Homo sapiens: one gene and its partner. Each later gene encodes a partner of the first gene's protein in a complex. Each region holds a gene or a part of one and is shown on either strand. Other genes may lie near its edges.

Region 1 (3,671 bases):
CCCAGGTGATCTAATATGTAGCAGAATTTAGGGACTACTCGTTTAAACAAATGCTTGAATTCAGCTTTGGGACCAGTCACCTTCTCCCTCAGTAAGCCTCCCTCTATTCCCCAGGACCTATGATGCCTACTCCACTTTCTACCTGAATTCCAGTGGCCTCATTTGTCGCCATCGTCTAGATAAAGTGAGTCCTAGGTAGGGCTGGGTGGGGTAAAGGGTAGAACATTTGTGTGCCTCCCCCAACTGGCATTAACCTTTCTCCCTGCAGCTGATGCCTTCACACTCACCTCCAACGCCTGTGAAGAAGCTGCTAGTGGGAGCCCTGGTGGCCCTGGGGCTGTCAGAGCCAGAACCTGACTTAAACCTGTGTTCCAAGCCCTGATCCTTGACCTTGGAGTGGAGGCAGCACTGAAGACTGCTACGCCCAAGAGAAGGAGGTGGAGGCAGCCAAGAATCTCAGGAGCCAGCTTCCTCTCCTCGTTTCTCTCCTTCCTTCCTTTCCATCTCATGCTGTGTAAAGCTGCTGTGTAATTTAACTTGTAAATAATAAAGTTTAACTGACTATATGAGATAGAATTTCACATATCACTTTCTCTAGATCCCAAATGTTCCCACAAGCTTTATTCCAAAAATAATTTTATTTAATAGGTATTAAATAATGTATAGAAGGAAAAGGAGCTGGTGTCAGGTTCTGTTTACGTCCTTCTCTTACCCTAGCTCTTCTCGTGTTTTGCCTATTTTTTTGGGCATTTTCTTAGCATGGGGATCTTCTAGCTCCTTGGCCTTATAATAATGGGGAGCCACCTCCAGAAGCCAACTGCTCTCAATCTCCAGTACCTAGGAGAGAGAAAAGATCAATGGAGTTCCCTTCTTTCCAACATAGATCTTTTGTTGTTGTTATTTTTTTTTCTTAAATTGAAACAGAGTCTTGCTCTATTGCCCAGGCTGGACTGCAGTGGCGTATCATGGCTCAAAGCAGTCCTACTGCCTCAGCCTCCCAAGTAGCTGAGACTACAGGCACACATCACAGTGCACCATTAATTTTTTGTATAGTTGGGGTCTCACTATGTTGCCTGGGCTGATCTTGGCCTCCCAAAGTGCTGGGATGGTTTACAAAAATGAGCCACTATGCCCAGCCCCAACCTAGATCCTTATGTGTATGGTCAAAAGTTATCTTTCCTCTTTGACTGCAGGGCTAGGTGTAAAGGTGCCTGGCTCTATTATTATATACCCAAAGGGCAGATACACCTCTGTATGTTATTCAAGATACCAAATAAGCTATTCCCAAGAAAAGTCTAGAACAACATGCCAGGCACAGTGGCTCACACCTGTAATCCCAACACTTTGGGAGGCCGTGGCAGGCGGATCATGAGGTCAGGAGTTCGAGATCAGCCTGGCCAACATGGTGAAACCCAGTCTCTACTAAAAATATAAAATTAGCTGGGCGTGGTGGTGGGCACCTGTAATCCCAGCTACACTGGAGGCTGAGGCAGGGGAATCACTTGAAACCGAAGGCGGAGGTTGCATGAGCTGAGATGGTGCCACTGCACTCCAGCCTGGGCTACAACAGCACGGAACTCTCAAAAAAAAGAAAAGCCTAGAACATAAAGACTATACTCTGTGAGACCAGAGACTGCTTTGTTCATTATAGCCCCAGCACCTATACAGTAGCCATTCAAATATTTATTGAATAAGTGTCTAGTTCTCAGATCTTGGAAGATGCTGACACACCTGTTAGAAAGGATGTCTTTGGGCTGGGCATGGTGGCTCACACCTGTAATCCCTGCACTTTGGGAGGCCGAGGCAGGCATTTGAGACCAGCCTGGCCAACATGGTGAAACCTCATCTCTACTAAAAATAACAAAAATTAGCCAGGCCTGGAGGCTTGCGCCTGTAATCTCAGCTACTTGGGAGGCTGAGGCATGAGAATCTCTTGAACCCCAGAGGCAGAGGTTGCAGTGAGGCTAGATTGCGCCACTGCACTCCAGCCTGGACAACAGAGTGAGACTCCGTCTCAAAAAAAACAAAAAAAAACAAAGGATGTCTTTCTATTTTACCCTACCTTCCTCTTTCTGTACCAGTCCCAGCAACTTGAACCTGGGTTCTTAGCTTGCCAGGACACCATCTCTCTACATAGTCTCCACCTGCGTGGGCACAGGATGTTCTCCTCACCTGTCTCATGAACTCTTTGGTGGTCAAGACAAGTTCGTGGTAGAGCAGCCAGCGTGGCTGTTGCTCAAAGAGGGAGGAGTTGGGATGAATGAAGACTGTCTGCTGCTGTTTCACTGTGCGGTAGCCACTCCGAGTCAACCGTGCCGTGTGGTAAAAGTAACCAGCAGTGATGGCCTAAGGAGCGGGCAGGAAAGAAAATCAATGGAAAAGGCAGACATCTGGGGACCCTAAGAATGCACTACCTTTTTAGTTCAGGCTTCAGGAAAACTAGAGAGGTAAGGAATGCATGAAGAACTTCCCAGGAATGAACCTTCAGTGGTCTGGGGAAGAAAGGGCCCTGGGAGGACACGTCATACACAAGGGGAAGAGGGCATGCTCTCACGCTGGAGGAAATGCTGCATGCCCCCAGAGAAGCTTGCTCCTGGGAAGGTACTGGGGGTGGAAAGCAGGAGGCTGAAGAAATGCTGACCTTGCGTACACGGATATAGTCCCCCTGGCAGGAACTGAGACCAACTTCCACACGTTCCAAGAGCCCTTCCAGCTGTTCCCGCACATCCCGGGCTCGGCGCATCGATCTGAACTGTACAAAGTTCTCATAGCACCACTGGGAAGAGTAACCACTCTCAGCCCACTGGGAAGACAGTTAAAAAGAAAGGAGAGATAATTAAGTATACAGCAGGACTAAAGTCCCCCAGTGTCTCTCATTCCCACTCACCCAAGCCCAGTGACCTGTGTGTAAACATTTAGCAGAACCAGGTGGTCACCGCCAGGGAGAAAGAAGTTGACACGGGCATTGTCAGCATGGACGACCTTGTCCTTTGGTCGGTAGAAGATGGAGTTGTTGACAGAGAGCATGGCAGCCACTGTCAGGATCTCCTCTGAACAGCTGTACCTGGGACAGGAAGGGGAAAGCATGAGTTCAAAGCAAGACACATAGGAACAGATATGGTGGAGTGGGGAGTGATCACTGTGTGATGGATGTTTCCTCATGTGGGGAAGGCTGGTTGGCATAATGGCTACAAAGCAGCCAGCAGATAGATTCTGGCAGCAGCTTGGGGGTCAAGGAAGTAGGGGCCATAGATGAAACACAGTCACAAAGGAGGGACATCCATGGAGGCAGGAGCAGGAAACACCGGGGAATTCTGAGGCTTCTGCAGAAAGTGTGCATTCACTATGTGCATTTGGAAAAGATCTCTGACAGCAGAGGAATGGCATTTAAAGGTCATCCCTCCACAGCTACATCTAAATGTTCTAGTTGGAAACCTTAGGAACAAGTAAGTTCCTCAAGGGGCCGGGCGCAGTGGAATCAAGGATAGGATCAAGTGTCTTACCCTTGTGGGCCTCAAAAGGGGGCAATCAGAGTTATCTAATACTTTATTATGTGTTAAGGGATAGTATGATGAACAGAAAAAGACAGACAAAGGGGACCCTGGAGACAGAGGAGGCCTGGCCTGTTTGTGTGCTGGGGGCCCAGGTGGAGGCGAGGGCTTACTTCTCAG
Region 2 (7,669 bases), on another chromosome or scaffold:
CCATGCTACCCTCTGCCTGCAGTGCACTGGGTTAGAGCCAGGATGGTGTCTGGCCCCAGGGAGGTGCGGAGGCATGCTTACCAGGGGGAGCCAGGGCAATGGAGCTTGGGCAGGCTGTTTCCAGCCACATATGAGAAATGGAAGCCTCCAGGGTTGAGAACCAAGGGAGTCAGATCAACCAGTCAGATCAACCATGTGGCTGCAAGACAGGGCAGAGAGGGGACGTCAGCCCCAGGCCCCTCCACACCTCATGTGCAGTTCTACAGCACGGGCACAGGCACTGCCTACACAGAGCCAACCTCTGAGCCCAGACCCCTCCACTGTAAAATGAGAATAAGCACTCAGGATGGTTGTGAGGATTCACTAACAGACTGAGAAGAAATGGTGACCTAGGCTGGCACATGGGACACTCCCCAAGATGCTCCTTTTTCATTTCCCTCAAGCCCAGAGTAAACCCCTTCGACCTCCTTGGGTTTCGTGACAGGCCATTCCAGTTTAATTTCACTTCAGATCTTGAAATGTCCAAATTCTTCACCTGGAGGATAGAAAGGAAATCTCAGGATAAGTTTGTTGGCCTCATTTGAAGAAAAGTACCTTATAGAAGAGCCATAAGAATGACGTGGCTTTCATTCACTCAGCAGATACATTGGGACCATCTCTTGTGCCCACCTTGAGCTTGGTTAGGGGTACAGGAGATGGGGTCGGGCACGCTGGGAACTAAGGAGGTCTGAACCCAGCCTGGGGGATGGAGGACTGCCTGGAGGTGGAGGCCAGACCTGAATGAGTCACACAGGCTAAGTGGGGAGTCAAGAGGTGCAGGCAGTTAGGCCACCACACCTGGCCGCTCATCTTTTTCAGCATTGAATAATATTCCATTGCCTGGATATGCCACATTTTATCATTCGCCCAATGAAGGATATCCTGGTTGCCTCCAAGTTTTGCAATTATGAATAAAGCAGTATAAACATCTGTGTGGAGGTTTTAGAGTATACATAACTTTTCAACTCATTTGGGTAAATACCAAGGAGCATGCTTGCTGAATCATAGGGTACGATAGCCAAACTGTCTTCCAAAAAGACTGTACCATTTTGCATCCAGCAATGAATAAGAATTCAAAGGCCTTGGCTGGGCACAATGGCTCATACCTATAATCCCAGCACTTTAGGAGGCTGAGGCGGGCGGATCACGAGGTCAAGAGATGGAGACCATCCTGGCCAACATGGTGAAACCCTGTCTCTACTAAAAATACAAAAATCAGCAGGGCGTGGTGGCTCATGCCTGCAGTCCCAGCTACTTGGGAGGCTGAGGCAGAAGAATCGCTTGAACCCAGGAGGCAGAGGTTGCAGTGAGCCAAGATCGTGCCACTGAACTCCAGCCTGGCGACAAAGTGAGACTCTGTCTTTAAAAAAAAAAAAAAGAATTCAGAGGACTTTTTGTGTAAGGAACTCACACTGTTTTATAAAAAGACAATTCAGAATTCTGGCCGAGCGTGGTGGTGCACTACTGTAATCCCAGCAATTTGGGAGGAGTGAGGTGGGGGATCACTTGAGCTCAGGTATTCAAATTAGCCAGGCATGTTGGTGCGCACCTGTAGTCCCAGCTACTTGGGAGGCGTGAGTGGGAGAATCTCTTGAGCCCAGAGGGTGGAGGCAGGCACCTGTAGTCCCAGCTACTCGGGAGGCTGAGGCAGGAGAATTGCTTGAACCCGGGAGGTGGAGCTTGCAGTGAGCCGAGATCACGCCACTGTACTCCAGCCTGGGCAACAGTACGAGACTCCATCTCAAAAAATAAAAAGTAATAATAATAATAATAATAATAATAATAATAAATCTTTAAGTTCACCAATAACAATAGATACAAAATATTCCATCAAACGGGTGGAACATCATTTACTCAACTGTTCTTGCTTTTTGAAATATTTCTCCAATGGGGTCAATTTTTAGGTTATTGGTGCATTTTGCTTTCTGACTGAGTCATCATGGTGCATCACCACAAATGGGTTATTTTTAATTGGTTTGTATTTATTTGTTTGCTTGCTTATTTAGAGACAGAGTTGTGCTCTGTTGCCCAGGCTGTAGTGCAGTGGCGCGATCTCAGCTTACTGCAACCTCTGCCTCCCAGGTTCAAGCGATCACCATGCCTCAGGCCTCCTGAGGAGCTGGGATCACAGGCACATGCCACCACGCCCAGCTAATTTTTGTATTTTTAGTAGAGACAGGGCTTCACCATGTTAGCCAGGCTGGTCTCGAACTCCTGACCTCAGGTGATCCAACCGCCTTAGCCTCCCAAAGTGCTGGAATTACAGGCGTGAGCCACCGCACCGACTGTCCCCTCCCCACACCCCGGCCCTTTTTTAAAGAGACAGGATCTCACTCTGTTGCCCAGGCTAGAGTGCAGTGGCTTGATCATAGTTTACTGCAGCCTCAAACTCCTGGGCCTCAAGTGATCCTTCCACTACAGCCTCCCAAGTAGCTGGAATCACAGGTGCTGCCACCATGCTGGGCCTAAGATTCCAGCCCTTAAGGAGCTACATCCCATCCACTGTATGTGTGTCATGGAGGCAGTGGTTGTGTCAGGGAGGGTGCTCAGTAAACCGGGACACAGACTGAATTACACAGGATTACAAATTGTGAGGAATTGTGACAGACTTTATGGGAGATGCATGGAAGTGGGTGGTTAGGGAAGGTCTCTCTGGGGAGGTGACACTTATGTTAAAACCTAGAGAATAAGAAGCCAGCCATGAAATAAGGCAAAGATAGCTGGCTTTCGGTGACTGGGTGGATGGTGGTACTGCTCAGCAGAGTGGGGACTGGGAGAAGAGGGAGGATTGAAAATTCTGCTTTATGGCCGGGTGCGGTGACTCATGCATGTAATCCCAGGACTTTGGGAGGGCTGAGGCGGGAGGATCACCTGAGGTCGGGAGTTCGAGACCAGCCTGACCAACATGGAGAAACCCCTTCTCTACTAAAAATACAAAATTAGCCAGGCGTGGTGGCGCATGCCTGTAATAATCCCAGCTACCTGGGAGACTGAGGCAGGAGAATCGCTTGAACCTGGGAGGCGGAGGTTGCAGTGAGCCAAGATCACACCATTGCACTCCAGCCTGGGCAACAAGAGCAAAACTCCATGTCAAAAAAAAAAAGAAAAAAAAAAAGAAAATTCTACTTTGACCAGACATGTTAATTTAATTTTTTTAGGCAGAGTCACTCTGTCACCCAGGCTGGGATGCAGTGGCCTAATCTTGGCTCACGGCAACCTCTGCCTCCCCAGTTCAAGCTACTGTCTCGGCCTCCCAAGTAGCTGGAATTACAGGTGTGTGCCACCACACCAGGCTAATTTTTTGTATTTTTAGTAGAGATGGGGTTTTGCCATGTTGGCCAGGTTAGTCTTGAACTCCTGACCTCAAGTGATCCGCCTGCCTCAGCCTCTCAAAGTGCTGGGATTGGCCGGGCGTGGTGGCTCACGCCTGTAATCCCGGAACTTTGGAAGGCCAAGGCAGGCGAATCAGGAGGTCAGGAGATCGAGACCATCCTGGCTAACATGGTGAAACCCCGTCTCTACTAAACACACACACACACACACACACACACACACACACAAAGTGCTGGGATTACAGGCGTGAGCCACCACGCCCATCCAGACATGTTACATTTCAGATCAGTGGTTACCCAAGTGGAGATCAGGAACCTGGAGTGCTGGTGACTTAGTACTGGGAGTCATGGGATACAAATGGCATTTAAAATTAGGAGCCTAGGCAAGATTACCCTGGGCCTGAGTGTAGCTAGGGGCCCAAGGTACTGATCTGACCCAAGGGAAGGGTCTGGCAGAAGAGACGGAAGGGATCAGGTAGGGCTTTGGACCTCTAGGCTTGATGGCCACCTGCTGCTGGGCCTCCGAGGGGCCTGGAGGCGGTGGGGACCGAATATGCAGAGAGAATGAGAAGTGAGCGAGTAGAACGAGAGTGGTACATGGCTTTGAAGGCATCTGCCACGGAGGCGGGAAGGGATGGGGTGGAGGCTCATGAGACTTGAAGCTCTAGGAGGACGTTGAAAAAGACCTGAGCGCTGGCCGGGCGCGAAGCCTCAGGCCTGTAATCCCAGCACTTTGGGAGGCCAAGGCGGGAGGACTGCTTGAGCTCAAGAGCTCCAGACCAGCCTGGGCAACATTGTAAGAGCCTGTCTCTACAAAAAATTAACAAATTAGCCGGGTGTGGTGGTGCGTGCCCGTAGCTACTCGGGAGGCTGAGGTGGGAGAATCGCTTGAGCCTGGGAGGTCGAGGCAGTAGTGAGCTGTGATTGTGCCACTGCACTCCAACCTGGGCGACAGAGCGAGACCCTGTCTCGAAAATAAATAAATAAGACCTGAGAACCCAGTATGGGAATGGCCCTGAGCCGTGGCTAGGGGGGTAGACAAGGCGGTCCAGACAGACCCCTCAAGAAGATGGGGCTTCGAGGCTGAGGGAGCTCGGCCCCGAAAAGACGCCTGCGGGAGATGGCACACCTAGCTAGGACCCCATACTGGGCAGGCGATCCTTCCGAGCATGAGCACCTGGCGCTAGCGAACCACAATTCCCAGCACGCCAGGCGCCCGTTTCCGGGGCGCGCCGCGGAACCCGGAAGTGGTCACGGAACTCGGCTGCGGCTCCATGGTCTGAGTTGTCAGCCGTTGTTTTTTCGTGCTCGCTAGTCGCCGCCGCCGCTCCGCCATGGGGAAGCGACAGCACCAAAAGGACAAAATGTAAGTTGAGCCGCAGTCGGGAGCGGCGCTCCACTCTGCCTCAGTGAACCGCCTGTCCCGCACTGCGCGCCGCTCGCCTTCCCTCTCAGCTACTCCCCAGAGCACAGCCCAAAGGTCACTTCCTCCCGGAAGCTGCCGCCCTGTCTCCAGTCAGGGTAATGACCCTCGGGCCGCCGCGCTCTCCCGGGGCCGCGGCTCCGATGACGTCAGCTGCGGGCTCGAGCGCAGCCCGGTTTTCCTTACTCTGGTTCTGCCCGGACCGTCCCCCGTCTGTTCGCGAGTTTCGCCCTTGAATGAGTAGTCTCTACCTCTTCCGTACTTCACGTCTCGCTGTGTTCTGGTTCATGCCTATCAGCCTGCAAACGTGCTGCAGAGCCTTCTAATTTAAAGCAAACCAGGTCGGGCGCAGTGGCTCACCTGTAATCACAGCACTTTGGGAGGCCGAGGCGGGCGGATCACCTGAGGTCAGGAGTTCAAGACCAGCCTGGCTAATACGGTGAAACCCCGTCTCTACTAAAAATACAAAAATTAGCGGGGCGTGGTGACGGGCGCCTGTAATCCTAGCTATTTGGGAGGCTGAGGCAGGGGAATCGCTTGAACCCGGGAGGCGGAGGTTGCGGTGAGCCGAGATCGTGTCACTGCACTCCAGCCTGGGCGACAGAGCGAGACGCTGTCTCAAAAATAATAAATAAAATTTAAAAATCCACCCGTGCCCCGTGCCCCACGTCCCACGTTCCCCTCCCGCTGCCGCCGTGTTGTTTCTCTTAAGAACAAGTGAGAGACTAGTGGCTTCATGCTGTTTTCTGAGTCTCTTGAAACCACTCAAGTCAGAATTTCGACCCCAGAACTGTTGGGCTTCTCAACAGTATGTCACACCGTTGACCACTCCCTCTTTCTGAAGCCCTCCTTTGGTATCTGGGATTTCACCTGCTCTTTGTTTTCTCTCGACTTCAGCGGCCTCTCTTTTCAGGTTCCCAGCGACTTCTTGTTGCTAAATATAGTATTCAATCCTCAGTCCTCATTTTTTTTTTTTTTTTTTTTTGAGACGCAGTTTCGCTCTTGTTGCCCAAGCTAGAGTGCAATGGTGAGATCTTGGCTCACCGCAACCTCCGCTTCCCGGCTTCAAGAGATTTTCCTGCCTCAGCCTCCCGAGTAGCTGGGATTACAGGCATACGCCACCATGCCCAGCTAATTTTGTATTTTTAGTAGAGAAGGGGTTTCTCCATGTTGGTCAGGCTGGTCTCGAACTCCTGACCTCAGGTGATCCACCTGCCTCGGCCTCCCAAAGTCCTGGGATTACAGGCGTGAGCCACCGCGTCTGGGCAGCCTCAGTCCTCATTTTGTTGGGCTTCTCAACAGTATGTCCCACTGTTGACCACTCCCTCCTTCTGAAGCCCTTCTTTGGTATCTGGGATTTCACATGCTCTTTGTTTTCCATCGACTTCAGCGGTCTTTCTTTTCCCAGTCTCCTTTCTGGACCCTCCTCCCTTCTCTCAGATCTCATACGTTTCTTTTCCATAAACATTCTCTGTGGGTGATATAATTTCCCAGTCATCTATAAGCTGCTTTCCCCAGTCTTGTGTAGTTAGTGGCTTACTTAATATCTCCACTGGAGGACTGAAAGACATCTCAAATTTTTTTTTTTTTTTTTTTTTTTTTTTTGAGATGGAGTCTTGCTCTGTCGCCCAGGCTGGAGTGCAATGGTGCCGTCTTGGCTCACTGCAACCTCTACTTCCCACATTCAAGCAATTCTCCCACCTCAGCCTCCCCAGTAGCTGGGATTATAGGTGCCTGCCACCATGCCCATGCTAATTTTTGTATTTTTAGTAGAGACAGGTTTTCACTATGTTGGTCAGGCCGGTCTCGAACTCCTGACGTCGAGTGATCGACCTACCTCTGCCTCCCAAAGTGCTGGGATTACAGGCGTGAGCCACCGTGCCGGGCCAGACATCTCGAATTTAATATGCCTTAAACAGAACTCTTGATTTTCAGCTCTTGAGCCTGCTCCTCCCTGTAAACTAAAAATAAAACCCTAAGTCCCCCCACTGGCTAAGCAGACACCCTTGTGGCCAAGAGAACCCCAGGAAAACCTTAAAACTGAGTTCCTGGCCATGATGGGATAGAGATCAGCTGTGCCTTGTTATATCCCCCTCCCTTTTGTGGCTTAGACACAACAACTGACCAGCATTAATGTTGAAATAGAGATCATAAGGGGCCAGGCACGGTGGCTCACACCTGTAATCCCAGCACTTTGGGAGGCTGAGGCGGGTGGATCACCAGGTCAGGAGATCGAGACCATCCTGGCTAACACGGTGAAACCCCATCTCTACTAAAAATACACAAAAAAATCAGCTGGGCGTGGTGGCAGGCGCCTGTAGTACCAGCTACTCGGGAGGCTGAGGCAGGAGAATGGCGTGAACTCACGAGGTGGAGCTTGCAGTGAGCCGACATTGCACAACTGCACTCCAGCCTGGGCAGCGAGCAAGACTCCGTCTCAAAAAAAAAATAAATAAAATAAATAAAAATAAAGAAATAGAAATCATAAGATTGACAAAACAGACTCTTTGTGGCAATAAGATACCATTTTTTTTTTTTTTTGAGACGGAGTCTCGCTCTGTCGCCCAGGCTGGAGTGCGGTGGCATGGTCTCCGCTCACTGCAAGCTCCGCCTCCCGGGTTCATGCCATTCTCCTGCCTCAGCCTCCCGAGTAGCTGGGACTACAGGCGCCTGCCACCACGCCCGGCTAATTTTTTGTATTTTCAGTAGAGACGGGGTTTCACTGTGTTAGCCAGGATGGTCTCCATCTCCTGACCTGGTGATCCGCCCGCCTCGGCCTCCCAAAATGCTGGGATTACAGGTGTGAGCCACCGTGCCTGGCCCTCTATTTTTTTTTTTTTTTTAGTAGAGACTGGTTTCACCGTGTTAGCCAGAA

What was found.
Region 2: DHX16 (region 1) and PPIL2 share a complex: the UniProt entries of both Homo sapiens proteins name them as parts of the minor spliceosome.

The regions. Positions count from the first base shown.
Region 1 is NC_000006.12:30,652,534-30,656,204, forward strand, and holds the end of DHX16 (pre-mRNA-splicing factor ATP-dependent RNA helicase DHX16), read right to left. Parts: coding exon 3,665-3,671; intron 3,065-3,664; coding exon 2,902-3,064; intron 2,804-2,901; coding exon 2,642-2,803; intron 2,347-2,641; coding exon 2,173-2,346; intron 838-2,172; coding exon 709-837; 3' UTR 594-708; downstream 1-593. Other genes in the region: uncharacterized protein C6orf136, read left to right, coding at 115-184, 269-382. UniProt on the Homo sapiens protein: Required for pre-mRNA splicing as a component of the spliceosome. Contributes to pre-mRNA splicing after spliceosome formation and prior to the first transesterification reaction.
Region 2 is NC_000022.11:21,661,395-21,669,063, forward strand, and holds the start of PPIL2 (RING-type E3 ubiquitin-protein ligase PPIL2), read left to right. Parts: upstream 1-4,617; 5' UTR 4,618-4,705; coding exon 4,706-4,737; intron 4,738-7,669. UniProt on the Homo sapiens protein: Has a ubiquitin-protein ligase activity acting as an E3 ubiquitin protein ligase or as an ubiquitin-ubiquitin ligase promoting elongation of ubiquitin chains on substrates.